Regions from separate parts of the Homo sapiens genome. Here region 1 is linked to region 2. Evidence: fine-mapped expression QTL. Tissue or cell type: lung. Region 2 holds a variant in brackets; the other region holds the start of a gene. All regions are shown on one strand. Distances are from middle to middle.

Region 1 (10,618 bases), 20 kb before region 2:
CCCACTTCAGATGCCAATCTCAAGCCCCAGATGGAGGCCTGTGCTCCTGACAGATCAGCTATAAACTAGGGTAGCCACAATTCCCTTAAATTAATTTGCTAGAGCGGTTCACAGAACTCAGGAAATACTTTACTTACACTTACCATTTACATAACAGATATTACAAAGAATACAGATGAAGAGCCAGATGGAAGAGACACATAGGGCGAGGATCTTCAATGCCCTCCCCAGGAACTCCACCCTCCAGGAAGTTCCACATGTTCAGCTATCCAAAAGTTTCCAGAACCCAGTCTTTTGGGTGTTTATGGATGCTTCCTTACATAGGCATGACTGATTAAATCACTGGCTATTGGTGATCAACTCAACCTTCTGCCTCTCTCTTTGGGGTTGTGGGGTGCAAATCCCAAACCTCTAATAATGTGCTGGTCTTTCTGGTGACCAGCTCCCATCCTGAAGCTATTTAGGGACCCCCAGCCACCCATCATCTCATTGGCATATGAAAGACACTCATCACTCTGGAGATTCCAACGGTCTTCGAAGCTGTGTACCAGGAAACAGGATAATTACCAAATACATTTCACAATATCACACAAAGCAAAATTAAATTTTTCCATTTCAGACCCTAATACTGCTACACGGCAGGAATCTGACTTCCTAGCTAGCAAGAAAGAATTTATAATAAATCATCAGAAAATAAAATTGTCTTTAAAGAATCTTGAATTTGAGTAAGCACCAAAAATCAAGGAATACAGCATTTGGATCCAAGGTGTCAAAACTCCCTGCCTGCTCTAGACTACCTTGGTTTATGCCTACTAACCTGGCATAATTATTAGGAGTGCCCACTTCTACTTTAAAAAATGGCACAGTTTGGACAACTGGTTATACATCACTCTATGCAGATAAAAAAGATTTTTCAACATTGTTTGACAAAGAAACATTAAGGCATTCAGAAACATTAGGATGCAAAGAGGTGGTTTGCACAATCTGCTTTTACACTCACCAATTCTGGAAGAGTTAATAAACATGTTAACTTTCACAGCTATAAAGTAATAAAGATTGATCAACATTGAACATTTACGAAATTTCTTCAGACATAAATGTGGAGCTTGGCCTTGCAACCTATATTTGGGAATTTCCATTTCCACCTCTACCCCCAGTCTAGGGATCCATGAGAAAGGCACAGTGATTCAGCATTTCTAAGGCTTTCATTAAAATGTGCTTCAGTGCAATGAAATCAGGAGAGGGAAAAAAAGGTACATAACACAGATATTAAAAACTTCTTTACATAAAAGCAGAAATGAAATTCTATACTTTCTTACTGAAACATTTCTAAAGCAGCAGAACTGGCAAGTGTCTCTCATCACTGTTATTAAGCAAGTCATCCTAAGATACAGCAGAAAGCAGATGGAACACTTTTTATCAACTACTTCAAGAGATGCTTAAAAACAGAAGTAAAAGGGAGGTCACAGAACACAAAGGGTAATTTCAAGGCACCCACCAAACAACAACACTGTCTATACCTGTACGGGAGCACTTTTAGAATCTTGCTTATCTCATTTTCCTGCCTCCTGGAGGATAGATCATGTCTTTTCATCCTTTTAACCTTTATCTCTTATCTTTGAATACTTAGCATACCGCTTGCATATGAGAAAGGTGCAACAAATGTTTATAGAGTTAAACTAATAAGAAAAATGCTTTCAAATACGATTTCTGTAGAAACATTCTTTTCAAAGTACAGTATAAAAGAAACCCAACTATTCCTCTAGGTAAGCGGTGGGTACAGGTTTAACAAACCTTATTATCACGGAAGTCAGGTATATTACAGTCAAACCACGTCCCACCAAAGAAAACAGCCACATAAGGTTAAACTATAAGGCAAGCATTAGTCATAGCCTCAAACATCTGAGTTATTAAAAAGTGCCACTGAAATTTCAAGTCTCTGCTGAGGAGGGCTTGAGCATTCTTTGAAACAGGCTTTGAGGCAGCTGTTTTTCCTTCCTCCAGCATCCTAAGCAAAGGTGCTGGAGTTTGAGAACTAACCACTTAACTCTAAAAGGTCTCATTCATAAGGAAAGCTATAAAAGCCTCAATGCATTTTATCAAAAGGGCCTTGGATTTCTCTTCTTTAAAGACAACACCCATTTCTCCTATCAATAAGACAAATGAGTTAGACATGACCTATTAGTCACCCCATTAAGTTATATAGGAGCTTATGGAGAAAAGGGCTGGCTGAGAACAGAGACACATTTATCTCACGGTGGGTAGCAGCCACTTCAAAATAATGTGAAAGAAAGTTCACCTCTCCAGTAATATTCAAGGTGAAGAAAGCACTTTCTCAGAGACCTAACTTGTAAAAAATAGTAAAAATTAAACATTCAGGTCACCTGAATTTTATATTAGCTGCTTTACAACATAGGAAAATCACCCAAAAGCCTTAAATTTCTAGCTCCCCATTTGTAAAATGGGGATAAATACTGTTACCACTCACCTATATTTTAGAAAACTAATAAAAAACAATGATGTAAACTGCAGATACTTTCTTAAATTCTAGATGTTTAGACAGTTAATTGCTAACTGTTGTTCTCACCTGAACAAGTACAGATCAAAATGAAACATTTAACATACAGACTCTATTTTCTGCTCCCGATAAACAACAGAAGAACCGATAATCCATTGTTTAAATCTGCTCGGGGTTCAAAATAATATTAATTCAAGTAAAGAATAGTAACACAGGGAAAAAGATCCCTTAAACTCTTTGGATATTAAACATTTGTCTTCTACTGATACCTTGGTAAATATCAGTTCCACTTTCTGAACTAACCTGAAAGTAAAGCAACTGCTCATAATCAATGCAGAGTAGGTACTGAAGAATTATGCCAATCAAAATTGGTCTTCATATTATGCAAATAATTTGTGTCTAGTCACCATAATCTTTTTAAATGTCAAATTGTTTACCTATTGAAAATACAACAGAAAATTTTTTTTTCCTCCTACTGATCAATTAAAGAAACAGACTGTTTAAACACTCAATTTCTAAGTGGAAAGACTGATGGAGACACTGCAGCCAAATAGCTTCTTGAAGCAATCTTGCATGTGCAGATTGAAAGCAGTTTTTATATCATGGGAGACAGTTTTATATCAAGGCAGAATACTGCACCCTTACATAAAGCCTCACAGAAACAAGTTAGAATCATAAACACATTCACTTAACTACTGTTCAGTGCCCAATGTACCTGAAAGATACATGGATATCATTTCAGGTATCAGAAAATTCTAGTTCCAGTTTAGTCAGAGAAGAGAAACAACAGTCTTATCCCAGTAGATCCCAAGTTAATTCCTTCCAGTTTCTCCCCTATCATAATATTAATTGCTTTCTTAATAAAATGCTGCAGTAAAATTTGTGAACTCAGATTCTGGCAGAAAATCAAATCAAAGGAAAACTCTTCATGATAGTTACTTTTGCATAGCCAGCCTCCTGCCTACCTTATTATGTTTTTGCTGGTGTCTTGCCTTTGTGTCAAGAACGTGATAAGGGCTTTCCGAGTCTTGGTTGATGTAATATATGAGTCTTGAAGGCAGTGTGATTTCTTTCTGCATTGCATTGCTGTAACTGATATTACTGCTGCTATTCTGTTGCAATGTATTGTCTTCATCTGCCAGGACTCCCAAATTTTTTTCTGCAGTTTCATTCCAATGCGGAGCTGGTGGAGGTAGGGGGGTGGGGGAGCAGAAAATACAAACATACACAAACACACACATATTTACCCCATAAATACATAAGCACTAAAATGCATTTTTCCTTTAATTTCAAACACAAAGTTTTCTATTTATAAGCAGTTAAGAAGTAGAGCTAGAGTAAAGCAAGTTATTTCAACAATAAAATGGCCTGGAGAAGTTAATAAATAGCCAATAAGGCTTATACAACTGTGCACTATTTATTTTGATTTATGTCTTATATATACATTTCTAGTCAGACTCAAATCTATACTTCTAAGTGTTGGGGGGGGGGTAGAATGAACTTGAGGGAAGAAGAGTCATTAAATGAACATGTTCAGGGGTCCTGCCCCCGATCTCCACCCCTTCTCTGAGTCCACAGAAGCACAACTCTACTCTGCCTAGTGGCATCCCATCCAAGAGCTAAGAACGCTCCTAAGATAACTTGAGTACTGAATTTATGGATACCGAATATTAATCGACTCTTTTAACAAAATGGACAATTCCCTTCTCTTTTAACTTTAAGATGAGCAAACATACTTTGCCATGTAGGGATACAGATGCTGGCAGCTTCCCAATTTCTTTTTATTTTCCTGACAAAGCCAGCTTTCTGCTTTCAGTGACTTCCAATCATCAATATATAGAAGATGGTATTATATTAATTGTTCATTATAATGACAAGCACTTTGAGAAATCAGAACCAAAGGTCGTGCATGAAGTATGTCTTCAGCACCTTAATTCTTTGGTCCCCGAAGTGTGCCTCCCCCACCTTAATTCCAACCGCACTGAATGCGCCGGATACGAAATTTGAGGAAACAGCCCATTACCACTATTATCACTACATCCTCCCCGCATTCACATTAAGGTTCCACCACGCAAGTAGCAACTTGCTCCCTCGCTGTATTTCCCATCCACTGGTTGCCCCTCCGCAAGTTGCACAGAGATCGCTGAGGGACCCAGGATCCACTAAACACCTCCCAGTGGAACCAACAAGAATTGGAATGGGTTTTTCGCGAATGCAACAGAAATGGACTTCCAAAAGTGAACTGGGATGAATGGGGGTTTGGGAACGAGAAGGGTGGAAAGACAGGCAGGGAGGGAAGGAAAGGCCGAGCCGGGGACAAGCCCGGAGCACACGGACCCGCGCGCCCTTCGCTTTCCTCTGCAGGGCCCCGCGGGAAAGCCAACGCAAAGGGCACGGGGCCATACCCACCGCTGGGCGCAGCAGCCCCCCAGGCGCGGGGCCGGGACGAGGCGGCGAGCGGAGGCAGCAGGAGAAGGACGAGAAGCAGGCGGCAGGGCGGCGTGCGGGCCGGGGCGCTGGCAGGCACCGAGCCGGCGGGGCCGCGTTGGGGGCCGCAGGAAGCGCCGGCAAGGCTGCAGCCCGCCAGGGGCGGCTGCCGCGAGCTGCTGCCGGGCGGCTTCATGGCTCATAGCTCCCGGGCGCCGCTCCGTGTGGCCGGCGAGAGCGCCGGGCTAGCTGCGGGGCGGCCGCGGGCGGAGCCGGTCACGCCGGCTCGGCGCGCATGGTGCCGCGGCGGGCAGGGGGCTCCGGGCTCGGGGCACGGGGCGCGGGGCTCGGGGCTGGGCGGCGCCCCCTTTCCCGGCTCGCCTAGCCTCGCAGCCACTCCCGGGGCGGGACGCAGAGGAGTCCAGGGGTCCTCGCCGCTCCGCCAACTTGGAGCCTCCCCAGCGGCTACTCCCTCCCCCGGCGGGCGCGGCCGCTTCAGCGACTGCGGGGGCTGCCGCCGGGCCTGAGGATGCTGAGGCGGCGCGCGGGAGCGAGCGGCGCGGGGACGCGCGGGAGCGAGCGGCGCGGGGACGCGCGGAGCGGGCGTGCGCCCCGCCCCCCGAGAGCGCGCCCGAGCGGGGCTTCGGGTGCTGATGCTGTTGCTGGATGCTGTGCTGCTGCTGTTGCCTGGCCCGGAACGCACTGCGCATGCTTTGTTGGGGGGCGGGGAAGGGGGTAAAGCAGCAGAGTGATGCAGCAGCCCAAGCAGCATCGGAGGTGACGGGTGGTACCTCAAAAGATGGGGGCGGTGGAGGGGGAGCCGGCAGTCACGGATAAGCCAGAAGAAAGAGAGTACGGGGGTTTCCAGGCCAGAGACAGGGATGATCGGGAGAAAACAACCAGCCGAAGTCCACCTGCCTTTTCCACCACCCCAGACTTCACATACCCTCTCCTATTCCAACCTCTTCCTGCTCTGGATAAACTAAGGCCACGCATCTCCTTCTTAATCCCTTATATATTTGCTTCCTGCATGTAAATATAAAGGATTGCAGCCGGGGAGGTAAAAATAGCGCGGCTCCTCATTCAGATTGCCAGCAGCGGGTGGGACTGCGGCTGAGAAGAGCGTTTGCGCCGCAGGCTGGCGCGGAGTGGCAGGAATCCCCCGCGCAGGGGCGCTCTGCCCCGGCCTGTGTCCTCCCTGCCGGTGCCTGGGGTCTTTGAGGAAAGCACAAGAAGCCGGACGGTGTTTGCTCAAAAGTTCAGAAAGTATGACTGGGCATATTCGGGAAGGACTTCGACATTCTGGCGGGGAAGCAATACAGAGATTAGAAACCAAGTGTGTGGCAGCTATCTTGGGAAATCCGTTGTTTGTCAACCACGGGGATGGGCACACATTTAGGAGGACACATTTCTATTTTTGAGATCCAGTCCTGACTTCTGCAGAGGAAAGGGGAAGTTTTCTCTCGTTGCTGTAAAAAATGTAAATCCCTGACTTCGGTGGGTTCGCAGCCACTAAATCTGATGGCTTCAGATAAGAGTCTGTGGCATATTTCTGCCCCCAAACTCTCATAATGCAAGCATTCATTTATTCACCCTCCCAATGACAATCTGAGTGATAACAATGTTGTCTTACTCCGACATCCACGGGGTGAGGGCTGGGGTGGAGAATTCCATGATTAAAAGAAAGAATGTGGGTATAAAAGTGCCATGGCCATGACAGAACTCAGTGTTAGCCATCATCTTCTCCACTCACACTTAACAAAGAGAAAAGAAGAAGACATATACGCGCGCGCACACACACATTACAAAACTGTTAGGTAAATACTGAGATAACTTCCTTTCTATGTTGAGCTAGGATATTATTATCACATATTTATTCCTGTAAATTTGTAATTGTTGCTACCTCCCCCATGTGAGGGCAACAACAGTTTTCCCTTCTGCACACCATTGTGTCCCTAGGACCTCACACAGTGTCTGAGGCACAGAGAAATCGCTTGGAAAATATGTACTAAATGAATAAAGAAATGGGTGATACACACAAGCAGAAGTCACACTTGGGGCAGGCTAGTGAACACTCTAGCCCCACCGGAGTGCCCACTGCAGGTCAATGTTCTTAGGGTTGTCTCCCTCAAGTCAAGTATTCTCTGGCTAGGTTTTCCAAATTTATATTTGACACAATATGCATCCTGAAAAAGGGCCTGAGAGAAAGCAAGCCAGAAAGGAGATGTACAAGCAATGAGAAGGGAGAGGGAAATGAAAGGTGCAAAGCACCCAGATGCAAGTTACTTGAAAGGCATCTCTTGCAATTCAGTGACAACCTCTTAAAGTCTGTTCTGATAAATAAACCTATCAGCCAACCTGGACTGACCAAACCCACCCACCAGTTACAACACATCATTTCATGCACTTGGGGTATGGAATGAGGATTCAATATAGTTTCTTTTTTTCTTTTTTTTTTTTTTTTTTTGAGATGGTGTCTTGCTGTGTCACCCAGGCTGGAATGCAGTAGTGCGATCTCAGCTCACTGCAACCTCTGCCTCCCAGGTTCAAGCGATTCTCCTGCCTCAGCCTCCCAAGTAGCTGGGATTAGCTGGGATTACAGGCACGTGCCACTACACCCGGCTAATTTTTGTAGTTTTAGTAGAGACGGGGTTTCACCATGTTGGCCAGGCTGTTCTCAAACTCCTGACCTCAGGTGATCCACCCACCTCAGCTTCCCAAAGTGCTGGGATTACAGGCGTGATCCACCGCACCTGGCCTCAATATAGTTTCTAATAAGGGGTTGGGGTATTTACAAAGAGGGATGTTGTCTTATGTACTATAGTCAAAAGACTGCATTTATTTACAGAACTTTAATGGTTACAGACATTGCTAGAGTCAAAATAAGATATCAATAAATGAAATAATGAGTCAGAGAAAGAGTACATTACTTAGAAAAAATTTACTGGAAGTTTAGTCTTTAAGCCATATATTTAAGGGAAGGTTAAAAACAGAATCAAATATTAACTGATTAAATAATTTAATTGGTCAACTTGGTAGAGTTAGTAATATTCTTATTAGGTAGTTCAGAATTTTTATTTTTATAGAGTTTACTTCTAAATATTCCCCTCTGTGCTTTCATAAGATTTAGTGACTTGCTTAATCACTTGCCACCTACTGCTTTGCTCTGTATTCGTGTATGTGCATATCATCATTCTTCCATCAAAAAATACTGAGAGCAAGGCTGTATCTTGGTCATCTCTGACTCCACAGCCTAGTATAGTACCTGGAATCAAATCAGCATTCATAGAGGGGCACTCACAGGTAGGAAACAGAGGGATTCAGCAAGATGGACTGGAATAAAGAAATATACCAGAAGCTTGAGTGCTATAATGGCCCTGGTTACCAATGTGTGTTGGATCCTAAGGCCATCAGAGGATCACTGGAGTGATCTAGTCACAGTGGCAGACATGGAGAAATGCTGCAGTCGTAGGTGAAGGCAGGTGGCCAGAAGGTCCATGGGAAGGAAATTACACCAGGCAATATGGACCCTAGGTAAGCACCATGAGGGGTGCATGTGAGCAATACCCAGGAAGGGTCGTCATACTGTTCACAAAAATGGTCCATTGGTCTGGTGAGGGAGGAGATCAGAAGGTCTCTATTTGCCAAAATCTGTTTCCAGTGGTAGAACTGGACCCACTTTGCAACCAGTGAGAAGACTGGGTCTGGACAGGAGCAAGCAAAGGACAGAAATAGAAATATTAGATGTAGCAGGCCTTGGCCTCAAGAGGGCTGAGATGCTAGGGGAGAAAGTAGAAGAAGGGGATGACAGAAGAGAGGTCCAGAGGGTAAAATAAGTAAAAAAGCAGGGGAAGGTAGCAAAGCAGACTTACAAGAGCAATTGGAATGGAATAAGCATTTGCCCAAAAAGTCAAGGTCAAAGAAGGTGTGCAGCAAATTAGTGGATGGTGCTGATACTAAGAGAGATCTAGGGAGTGAAAGCAAGAGCATGAACAAGCCTCAAACAGCAGCTCTGGCTCAAGAGCAGCTTATACCCAGGAGCTCGCTGGGACAGCCTGTGTTACAGAGCCAGCTAGAGAAGGTTTCTCAGCCTCCTTTTAGAATAGCTGTGAAGACTGATTTTACCAGCGGAAGTGGATACTTCAAAGGAGAAAAGACAATGCATTTCTTCATGAAAGTAAAAAGCGAGTGTGCTTCGTTATTGGTACTTGCCACGTGGTTCAGGAGTCAGCAAACATTTTCTGTACAAGGCCAGATAATAAACATTTTGGGTTTTGTGGGCCATATGGTCTCTGCTGCATTTTTTTTTCTTTACAAACCTCTAAGAATGTGAAAACCATGCAGCCTACAGGACCTGGTTTGTCAGCTAGCCATTTTTAAATCTCTCTCTCTCTCTCTCTCTCTCTCTCTCTCTCTCTATATATATATATATATATATATATATTTACCTTAAATATATATACCTTATAATATATACTATATATATACACCTTAAATATATATATATGTAAGGTTAAATTTTTTTCATCAACTGTATTATGTCCTGTGCATATAAGCAGAAAAAGCGAAGGAAGCGTGTGCCACAATATAGAGGGCTCTAATTCTAGAAAAGATTGCTCTCCATTGTAATTTAGATAGTTGTTTAATCAGTAAGTAGTCACTAAATTCTCAAAAGATGTTCATCATTTGAAGGGATCCCTTAGGAAAGAAGTATTTCTCCTTTTGAAGCCAATTCTCAGATGATGATAATGGGAGAAAAGTCAGAAATCATTCACCAAAAAAAAAAATACAGATGTCAAAAAGATTCTAGACATTTCTTTTGTTTTTCCAAGCTATACTTTCTTGTGAGTAGGGGATGCTGAATGGATGCTACAGCCATGAGTGGTCAGAGAATGGAGTAATACATGCACTCTAGTCCTTCCCAGAGCCTGTCACCATCTGGGATCTGCCTGTGTTCCTCAAACTCAATCCTGTAGAGCGGCCATGCGGCAGGGGATACACACTCCTGACACAGAGCCACACCCCATGTCACAGGCAACCTTCAAGTTCATGAAAATTAGTCTGCAAGTCTGCAGGTCTGTGTTAATTACACCACTGCTCATTCTGAAGACCAGGACAAAGTGGGACAATTTCAAAAGTCACTGTGTGACTAATTTCAACACGACTGGGAAAAGAAAAAGTATTCAATACCAAAAGACCAATGGCAACGGACATTTCTAGGGGAGTAGTGGAACAGACAAAAATGTGTTACAATGTCGAGCATGAAAATATCCGAAGAAAGGTAACCACAGAAGAAACCTAAAATTGAGTTCTTAAAGGAAATTATGTTAAAAGGAGTTTAATTAGGAATTCAGATAGTATAAGATAAATTTGAAAACAGTTGATTTTCCCCCACTCTAAAACATTAGGTTTGTTTATCTAACAGTTTTGTGTGTTTACAAGCTGGGCACAAAGGGATACATGAGCATGTCATGGTGATTCGTGGTGATAATATGTGCTCTGCAAAACTTGGAAGAATTGTGTTTATTAAGAATAATCGCTGAGTCAACACATAATCATTAAGTCCTCACTGGGTCACAGAGCAGCACTAGGAGTTTCTACAGAAGTAAATTACCACGTCCTACTGGGGGTGGGAGTGGGGGCTAAACTATAGCAGCTGAATTGCATATGAAA
Region 2 (10,618 bases):
TACTGTTTTATGCTTTTCTTTAAATTGTCTTCATCTTGCCCCTTCTCAAGTATCTACAGTGAGTCTCTACTGCCTTTCATTTTTAGTGTGTCTGTGGTCTGGCCCACGGTTACCTATTTAAATCTCCCAGTTTGTACCTTCTGCTCTAACATATTGTTGGCAGGAAATGATTCTTCCATTCCTGATGTTTCTTTCCAAGGAGTTGGAAGTCTACTGCAGTCTACTCCTGCTTTTCTCTGTCCCTGTACTGTTTCCATCTCTGGTATACAGAAGTGATTTAGCTGATGAGTAAATTTGAGAATAATAAACTGGGCATGCTTACATAAGCTTTCTTTTCTCCTACCTTGGAATTTCCTTTCTCCTACTGGGATTGAGATACCCACAGAGAACAGAAGTCCTCCATCAGTAAGAGTGATATTTTGGCCTCCACCTGTCTTTTAACTTGTACAGAACCTAGTTAGAGAACTGAGGGGTTATTTATTGTGCCCTCTGAATAATGCAATTCACCATGTTCCTTCCCAGCTAGGGAGAGTCTGAAATCTCATAAATCATTACAACTAAAAGGTAGTGCCTTTACAGCAAAAGAAACTACCATCAGAGTGAACAGGCAACCTACAGAATGGGAGAAAATTTTTTGCAATCTACCCATCTGACAAAGGGCTAATACCCAGAATCTAAAAAGAACTTAAACAAATTTACAAGAAAAAAATCAAACAACCCCATCAAAAAGTGGGTGAAAGATATGAACAGACACTTCTCAAAAGAAGACATTTATGCAGCCAACAGACCCATGAAAAAATGCTCATCATCACTGGCCGTCAGAGAAATGCAAATCAAAACCACAATGAGATACCATCTCACACCAGTTAGAATGGCGATCATTAAAAAGTCAGGAAACAACAGGTGCTGGAGAGGATGTGGAGAAATAGGAACACTTTTACACTGTTGGTGGGACTGTAAACTAGTTCAAACATTGTGGACGACAGTGTGGTGATTCCTCAAGGATCTAGAACTAGAAATACCATTTGACCCAGCCATCCCATTACTGGGTATATACCCAAAAGATTATAAATCATGCTGCTATAAAGACACGTGCACATGTATGTTTATTGCAGCACTATTCACAATAGCAAAGACTTGGAATCAACCCAAATGTCCATCAATGATAGACTGCATTAAGAAAATGTGGCACATATACACCATGGAATACTATGCAGCCATAAAAAAGGATGAGTTCATGTCCTTTGTAGGGACATGGATGAAGCTGGAAACCATCATTCTCAGCAAACTATTGCAAGGACAGAAAACCAAACACCACATGTTCTCACTCATAGGTGGGAATCGAACAATGAGAACACTTGGACACAGGATGGGGAACATCACACACCGGGGCCTGTTGTGGGGTGGGGGGACGGGGGAGGGATGGCATTAGGAGATATATCTAATGTAAATGACGAGTTAATGAGTGCAGCACACCAACATGGCACATGTATACATATGTAACAAACCTGCACGTTATGCACATGTACCCTAGAACTTAAAGTATAATAATAAATAAATAAATAAAAGTAGTGCCTTTAATCTTGCCCAAGGTGGTCCTGCAGCCTTTCAAAGAGCTTAATTAAGCCCATAGTAAGAAATATTGTATTTTACCAGGTTATATTGTAGGTCATAGAGAATGTGATTCTGCCCTCCCCACCATCAGCAGCATGGGATATGTGTGTGTGTGTGTGTGTGTGTGTGTATGTGTGTGTGTGTTGGAGGGCAATGAAGAAAGACTAGTTGACTCACAAAATATTTGTTCTTGCCCAAGAATCTGTGGTTCTGAGAAAGACAAAGACCTAGAAGAACATCCAGATGATCGGGAGGCAGTGTTTCCTACCTTGGTCACATCAGATTCAACAACAAAGTCCACTCACTTGTCTGACAGAAGTGACCAGCCCAGTGGTTCTAGTCACCTCAGGCCTCATCTAGGTGCTCCAAAGGCCAAGAAGCTCAGTATCTTAACACAACCATGTGCCTATGCACATCAGCTCAAAAACTCTGCCTTAAGTCCAGTGACCATAGCTTATTTGTCTTTATTTCCCTAGAATCTAGCAGAGGGTTCTAGCACTCAAAAATCTTTATTGAAAGATAGACATGGGCTGGCACGGTGGCTCATGCCTGTAATCCCAGCACTTTGGGAGGCTGAGGTGGGTGGATCACCTGAGGTCAAGGAGTTCGAGACCAGCCTGGCCAACATGGTGAAACTTCGTCTCTACTAAAAACACAAAAAACAAGCCAGGCATGGTGGGGGGGACGCCTGTAATCCCAGCTACTCGAGAGGCTGAGGCAGGAGGATTGCTTGAATCCGGGAAGCGGAGGTTGGATTGAGCCAAGATCGCATTGCTACACTCCAGCCTGGGCGACAGAGCGAGATTCTGTCTCAAAAGAAAAAAGAAAGATAGACATGAACACACAGGCTCCTTCTAACCCCAGGGAATGGAAGGTGCAAGATTCAAATAGCCGAAGTCCTCAGAATACTGTCCTGACTATTCAGAATCAGCTTGATCAGAGAAACTTGATGTTAATACTCATCTGTCATTTGCATGGATTTTTTTTTAAATAATAAAATGCAGGCGACAGTGTCAGACAGGCACACATTCATTGCTGGTAGGAAGACAAACAGGTGCCACTATTCTGGAAATGTGAATCATAAACCTTAATGTTTTCATACTCTGGGACTTTTAAGAATTTTTCCAGAGGAAAAATTCAAAAATGAAAATAAAAATTTATACCTGAAGATATTTATTACAGCATTATTTTGCACAACAATAGGGCATTAGGCAAATTATCATGTGATGGAATTTTATGAAGTTTTTTGGCATCATTTATGAAGAGTTTTGGTGACATAGGAAAGTACTTCTCTTGTACTATTAGGTGATTGAAAATAGAATACAAAGTGGTTTATAAATTTTAATTTCAACCATTTAAAAATATATATATACATATCGATATTCCAAAAATAACCAAATAATCACTGAGTGATAGGGTTATCGACAATTATTGGTTTCTTGGTTTCTTCTCTTTACCTTTCTTTTATTTTCTTACTTTCCTTTTTTTTTTTTTTTTTGAGACAGTTTTGCCCTTGTCTCCCAGGCTGGAGTGCAATGGCAAGACCTCAGCTCACTGCAACCTCCATCTCTGAGGTTCAAGCGATTCTCCTTCCTCAGCCTCCCAAGTAGCTGGCATTACAGGCACCTGCCACCACCCCAGCTAATTTTTTTGTATTTTTAGTAGAGACGGGGTTTCACCATGTTGGCCAGGCTGGTCTCGAACTCCTGACCTCAGGTAATCCACCCACCTCAGCCTCCCAAAGTGCTGGGATTACAGGCGTGAGCCACCATGCCCGGCCTACCTTTCTATATTTTCTAAATTTTCTACAGTAATACTGCCTTAGTTTTATAATCATAAAATATTTAGTAAAATCATATTTATGGGATCTGTAATGAGATGGTAAATTCTTATAACAGTAAGCAAATTAAGATGCATAATTGTATATATAATATGACTACAACATTTAACCTTTGTAAAATATATATTTAGAAAGGAAAACTCCAAAATAATAACTGTGGTTGTTTTTGGGTAATAAGATTGAGCAATTCTCATTCTCCTTTCTACTTTTCTGCATTTTTCAATTTCAAACAATGAAAATATATTGATCTTATGATGATAACAGCAATAAAATTTCATGATTTTTAGTTCAAAATTTAACTCAGGCTTATTTTGGTAGAATTTTCAAAGTAGAAGATTAAGGAAAGCTAAGTTGGAGGAGGACCTAATTATTATTTGAGAAAGAGCTCTGGCAAAAACGTCAGTGAGATTAAAACAGTCTCATTGTAGCTTGAAAAAGACCCCATTCAACTCGATTTTCATAATCTAGTCTGCAGTCACTGTTAGACTTGAGAACAACAGTTAAACTTTGACATTTTCTGCACTCTAACTTTTCTTTCTATTCCAACAACTCACAGCTATGTCAATTTTTACATTTAAAGCATCTCTGGAAACAAGAAACAATGTTTAACAGACATAAAGACAATAAAAATACAATGTCTCCTTATTATCTTTTTCATCTTCAACATGTTTTTACTAAGATTCATTTGTCAAGAAATGACAGATGTGGAGAGTTTACCAAAAAAGGACACAGCCTTTAGCATATAATCAGGGAGAATTTCTTTCTACTGATCCATGTTGACATTAACTAGCAATAAGGTTGCTTGGCATTTCCTCCCTGGAAGTGAATTTGCCCCGTTACTGGAATATCTTTCTTCCGCTTCATAAATCTGATAGTGTGAGCATCAGGAAGCCCTGCTACTGTCCAACACTACTTCTAGTGGGCTAGAAAATAAGCAGCTCCATGTTTATGACAATTCTGACTACTTACGGGTGAAAAGAAACAGAAAAAAAACCAAGAAGGCTATCAAAATGCAAAATAATTCAAATGGCAAAATTAATCTCTTCCAGTTTTTGGAATATAATCTGCCAATCCCTTTGTGTTTTAATGTGCTGACAGTGAAAAGAAGAAATTAATCTCAAGAAGCATTTTAGCTGATAATGAATTATCAATTTGAAACTAAGATATTTATTCTAATGGAGCATGCAATATATCAGAGAAAGTATTTAGCAAGAAGTCTCCTTCCCCTCATCCCACCCTGAGGCTATAACACTGAGCTGCTTTACCATTAACACAGGGATTCGCTGATACACTAGGTCTTTTGAAACCTGTCCAAACATTTCTCTCTATTCTTTCTACTCATACAGTAAATTATCATGAGATGGAATTTTATAAAGCTTTTTAGGCATCAATTATGGAGAGTTTTGTTGACATAGGAAAGTACTTCTCTTGCACTATTAAGTGATTAAAAAAAGATTACAAAGTGATGCAAAGTTATAATTTCAACCATTCTAAATATATATATATATACATATTAATATTCCAAAAATAACCAAATAACCACTGAGTTATTATGGGCAATTATTGGTTTCTTCTCTTTACCTTTCTATATTTTCTAAATTCTCTAATATTAAAGTGAAAAATAGAATTTGTACACAGATAAATAAATGTCAAAGGGCTGTGGAGTAAAATATGAAGAACGGAAGAAAGGACATTGTAGCAGAGGATGCTAGCTGCTCACCAATATCTAATTGCTCTCTTTCCTGGGCACACAGGTAAACTACATTTCCCAGCCTCCCCTGAAGCTATGAGCAGTCAGTCACGTGGCTGTGTTCTGGCCAATGGATGCAGGCAGGAGAGAGACATCACTTCTGGACCTGGACCAGAACAACCTCCATGTGCAATCCAGTCTCTCTGGCTTCACCTGCCAGTTGAATGGAGAAGTCCTCAATGACATTAAAAAGAAAAGGAAAGAAAAACTGTGAGGAAATAGCAGAGGAGAGCTGCCCAGGAACTGCTTGTCCACAAATGCTCATATTGAACTATTACATGAGCAAAAACTAAACTTTTATTATGTTAAGCCACTGAAATGTTGGGGTTGTTTGTTTTAGCAGTTAGTCTACCTTACGACCATAATTACATCTATTTAAACAACTGTTGAAACAGCCATCCACATAGAGAACTTCACCTATGTTATATCCATGATGAAAAGCAGAAACTTAAAAAATGACAAATTTGTGTTTTCAGCCCACAGATAAATAATTCAAATTACTGTTTGATTTCACAAATCCCTTGTTCTCTAGATGTGGTGAAACATTTAAAAAGTTTTTGCTAACTTGGTGGCCATCAATCTGAGAACATCACATCACTCTGCATAGGATGTGATTAGATTTAGATTTGGAGGAAGACATCACAGAAGAGGTAGCATTTCAACTCAGTCTTGAAATATGAGAAAGAGCAAAAC[A/G]TGTGATTAGTGTCCAAGAATTTTAAACAGGAAAGGGTTCTTAAGATAAGAAAACTAAGAGCCAGAGAGGCTGGAACTTGTCCAAGGTCACACTACCATACTGTAGCAATCCTTGGTTTAGATGAGGAATTCCTTCACTTCCAGGCTAATATTTCTTGTCTTTCCCATTTTCCTCCATATTAACTCACATAGCAAAGTATGTTTTGTGAATTGTCTGTTATTAGGCAATGACTGCATGCATTTTCAAAATTTTTAATATCTGTCTACACACACACATGTTCATAAACATACCTGCATGTATGTAGGTATGTTCCTAGCTGAACCACAGCAGATCCTCTAATACAATTGTGTCCATAATTAAGGAATACTTCTCCATTCCTGCTGACTTCAAATTGCAAATATCTAGCCACATACACTATGTGGTAACTAGTCTCCTAAGATGGACACCAAATTTCACGCCTCGTGGTATCCATGCCCTCGTGTGGTTCTCTCCTACACCGACTTAAGATTTCCAATCGAAAGTGGTCAAAGTGGCACGGCACCAATTTCAGCCTTTAAAAGGACTGGCTGCTGCTTCTTCCTCCCTCTTGGAACATTCCATTTGTGGAATCCAGAGCCACAGTGTAAGAAGTACAGCCATGTAATTAGGGTGGGCGCAGTGGCTCATGCCTGCAATCCCAGCACTCTGGGAGGCTAAGGCGGGTGGATCACTTGAGGTCAGGGGTTCGAGACCAGCCTGGCGAACATGGTGAAACTATGTCTCTACTAAAAATACAAAAATTAGCCAGGCGTGGTGGCACATGCCTGCAATCCCAGCTACTCAGGAGGCTGAGGCACAAGAATCGCTTGAACCTGGGAGGTGGAAGTTGCAGTGAGCTGAGATCATGCCATTGCACTCCAGCCTAGGCCTGGGTGACAGAGTGAGATTCTGTCTCAAAAAAGAAGGAAGGAAGTACAGCTACATGACTAGAAAGACCACACAGAGAGGCCATATGGAGAAGGAAAGAGACCTAGCTGTCTCGGGATCCCAGTTGCAACCACCAGTTGACCCCCACCACAGCCAACATCTTACTGCAGCCACAAGAAAGATCCCAGTTAAACCAGTAGAACTTCATGGCTGTGCTCAGTCAACCACAGAACAATGAGAGCTAATAAACTGGTTATTGTTTAAGTACTCATAAGTTTTAAGTTTAAGCAATACACGACCAAAACAGGACTTGATTCATAGAAGTAGGGTGTTGCCATAACAAAACCCTAAAACATATGGCATGGGCTTTGGAATTCAGTGGCAGGCAGAAGCTGGAAAGCTCCTTAAGGAGGTGAATAGTGAAGACTCGAAGGACACCGAAGAAATTGCTATTGGAAACTGGAGAAAACGTGACCTGAATTATGTGCAGACCAATTAGCAAAACTATCCCCTGTAGCATGGAAGACAGGAAGAATATGTCGTAAACAGATAGCTCTGGCTAGGAGATTTTCAGTCAGAATGCAGTCAGCTTCTCTGTATCCATGGGTTCTGCCTCCACGGGTTCCTCATCCATTGGCTCAACCAACCATGGGTGGAAAATACTCAAATAAATAATAATAGTACAGCAATAAAAATAATACCCATTTTTAAAATGTAGTACCACTATTTACATAGCATTTACATTGTATCTGATATTATAAGTAATCTAGAGATGTTTTAAAGTATACGGAAGGATGTGCATAGTTTATATGCAAATACTCTACCATTTTATATAAGGGACTTGAGCATCCTCGCATTCTGGTATCTGCAGTGTTCCTGGAACCAATTCCCCACACATACGACTGTATCAAAAGCACCAACTGGCTTCTTTTGGCTGCCTGTGTTAACATACAGGAGGAGAAACATGAACTAAAAAAGTAATTCTTCAGTTTTTAACCAAAATTAGGAGAAAATATACAGAATTTAGGACTTTCTGGATTCAAAAATAAAACTTTCTCTTTTCTAGCTCCTCCAGGCAGCAAAAGATCCTGGAAGAGATGACCTCACAGCAAAGATCAAATCCAGGACTCTTCTGGCAAAACATGATCCCAGGAGTAATTTTGCATCAGTGAGGTAGCCAATTTGTTGAGACCTTAGGAAGTGTTGAGGATATTCCTCATAGACCCTTTTATCTACACAGAAAGACTTCTAAGAACCTTAAATGGTATGTCTTATAAACACTCTCACCCAGACAATAGAGCTTCTAAGAATATTAAGACATTGTCCCACAGCACCCTGATTCACAGGCCAAGGTAGAGGGGGTCTGTCTCAAAAACAATTGTGTATGTGGCTTCTGTCTAATCGAGTGACCCTGTAAGGTTGATAGGACACTGGCACAGTTCAAGAGAACTGTACCATCAGCTTGGACTAAAAGATGCAAACATAGTTTAAAATGAAAAGAAGTCTGATATATGTTCATCAGCTTGCTCCTTTCCCCCCGTGGACGCCGCCAAAGAAGCATAGTTAAAGTCTCTCTTCTTCCTGCTGTCATGTCTAAGTCAGAGTCTCCTAAAGAGCCCGAACAGCTGAGGAAACTCTTCATTGGAGGGTTGAGCTTTGAAACAACCGATGAGAGCCTGAGGAGCCATTTTGAGCAATGGGGGAACACTCACAGACTGTGTGGTAATGAGAGATCCAAACACCAAGTGCTCCACGGGCTTTGGTTTTGTCATATATGACACTGTGGAGGAGGGGGATGCAGCCATGAATGCCAGGCCACACAAGGTGGATGGAAGAGTCATGGAACCAAAGAGAGCTGTCTCAAGAGAAGATTCTCAGAGACCAGGTGCCCACTTAACTGTGAAAAAGATATTTGTTGGTGGCATTAAAGAAGACACTGAAGAACATCACCTAAGAGATTATTTTGAGCAGTGTAGAAAAATTGAAGTGACTGAAATCATGACTGACAGAGTCAGTGGCAACAAAAGGGGCTTTGCCTTTGTAATCTTTGACAACCATGACTCTGTGGATAAGATTGTCATTCAGAAATACCACACTGTGAATGGCCACAACTGTGAAGTTAGGAAAGCCCTGTGAAAGCAAGAGATGGCTAATGCTTCGTCCAGCCAAAGAGGTCGAAGTTGTTCTGGAAACTTTGGTCGTGGTCGTGGAGGTGGTTTTGGTGGGAATGACAACTTTGGTCATGGAGGAAACTTCAGTGGTCGTGGTGGCTTTGGTGGCAGCCATGGTGGTGGTGGATATGGTGGCAGTGGGGATGGCTATAATGGATTTGGTAATGATGGAAGCAATTTTGGAAGTGGTGGAAGCTACAATGACTTTGGCAATTACAACAGTCTTCAAATTTTGGACCCATGAAGGGAGGATTGGAGGCAGAACCTCTGGCCCCTATGGTGGTGGAGACCAATACTTAGCCAAACCATGAAACCAAGGTGGCTATGGCTGTTCCAGTAGCAGCAGTAGCTATGGCAGTGGCAGAAGCTTAGCAGGATAGGAGAGCCAGAGAAGTGACAGGGAAGCTACAAGTTACAACAGATTTGTGAACCCAGCAAAACACAGTGGTGGCATGGCCTAGCTGCTACAAAGAAGACATGTTTTAGACAAGTACTCATGTGTATGGGCAAAAAGCTCGAGGACTGTATTTGTGACTAATTGTATAACAGGTTATTTTAGTTTCTGTTCTGTGGAAAGTGTAAAGCATTCCAACAAAGGATTTTGAAATGTAGATTTTTTTTTGCACCCATGCTATTGATTGCTAAATGTAATAGTCTGATCGTGATGCTGAATAAATGTCTTTAAAAAAAATGAAAAGAAGTCGCTGGGCCATAGGTTTATATTGATAGAAAGAAAGCTGAGGAAGCTACTCAGCTGTAAATACAGGCCATTTCTTATGCAAAAGGAAAGATGACTCAGAGGGTGAAAACAAAGCCTAAATGGTGGAACCAAGAGCCACAGAGGACCACTCTAGGGAGTAGAAATGAATTTTGGTCAAAGAATTGGCAAAATTTTCTCAACTTAATTTCAGAATTGCTATGAACCAGTGACTGCTCTATGCTTCCTGTTTTCCCTTTCATGAATGGGATTTCTATTTCAGTTTTTCATCACTGCCTAGCCATTGTATTTGTGTTTTGGGTGGGAAGCGGATTATTTGTCTTTTTACTTCATCAGTCTTCAGGTTGACGATAGCTGAACCCAAGAAACCTTAAGCTCACCTAGATATGATTCAGATGACATGATCCTGGATTTAAAGCCCAAACCTGATGCCATGGTATGAGTAGACTTCAATGGTCTTGGAAGGGAGAAAAATGTATTTTGCATGAAGGAAGGACATACATTATTGAGAAACAGAGGGTGGACTGTGGTGGCTAGTCTCTAAGGATGGCCATCCATTGTACCATGACACTCAGTATTCATATCCTTGCATAAAACCCTCCCACATTGAATCTGGGCTGGCCTGTGACTTGAGTTAACCAGTAGAATTCAGCAAAAGTGATGCTACACTATTTCTAAGCCTAGCCTTTAAAAGGATGGACTGATTTTTTTTTCCTCCATCTTGGAATGCTGGCTTTGGGAAACCCTAAGCTGCCACGTAAAAAGTCCCGTGACAGAGGCCACATGGAGTGGCCATAAGAACAGAAGAGGTCTTCCAACTCAAATGTCCACCAATGATAGACTGGATTAAGAAAATGTGGCACATATACACCATGGAATACTATGCAGCCATAAAAAAGGATGAGTTCACGTCTTTGTAGGGACA

Evidence for each region.
Region 1: it holds the start of ADAM23, and the variant in region 2 is fine-mapped to the expression of ADAM23 in lung (TOPMed, PIP 0.97).

What each region holds. Positions count from the first base shown.
Region 1 is chr2:206,438,390-206,449,007 of GRCh38, reverse strand. ADAM23 (ADAM metallopeptidase domain 23) reads right to left here and starts at 5,476. Exons shown (of 26, transcript NM_003812.4): 1 at 4,928-5,476; 2 at 3,484-3,701. The coding sequence starts at 5,141. RefSeq lists a silencer at 4,902-5,031.
Region 2 is chr2:206,418,014-206,428,631 of GRCh38, reverse strand. It overlaps the pseudogene HNRNPA1P51. Among named protein-coding and RNA genes, the nearest start is that of ADAM23, 20 kb to the left of the region's middle. The variant A/G (reference allele first, on the strand shown) is at 5,898.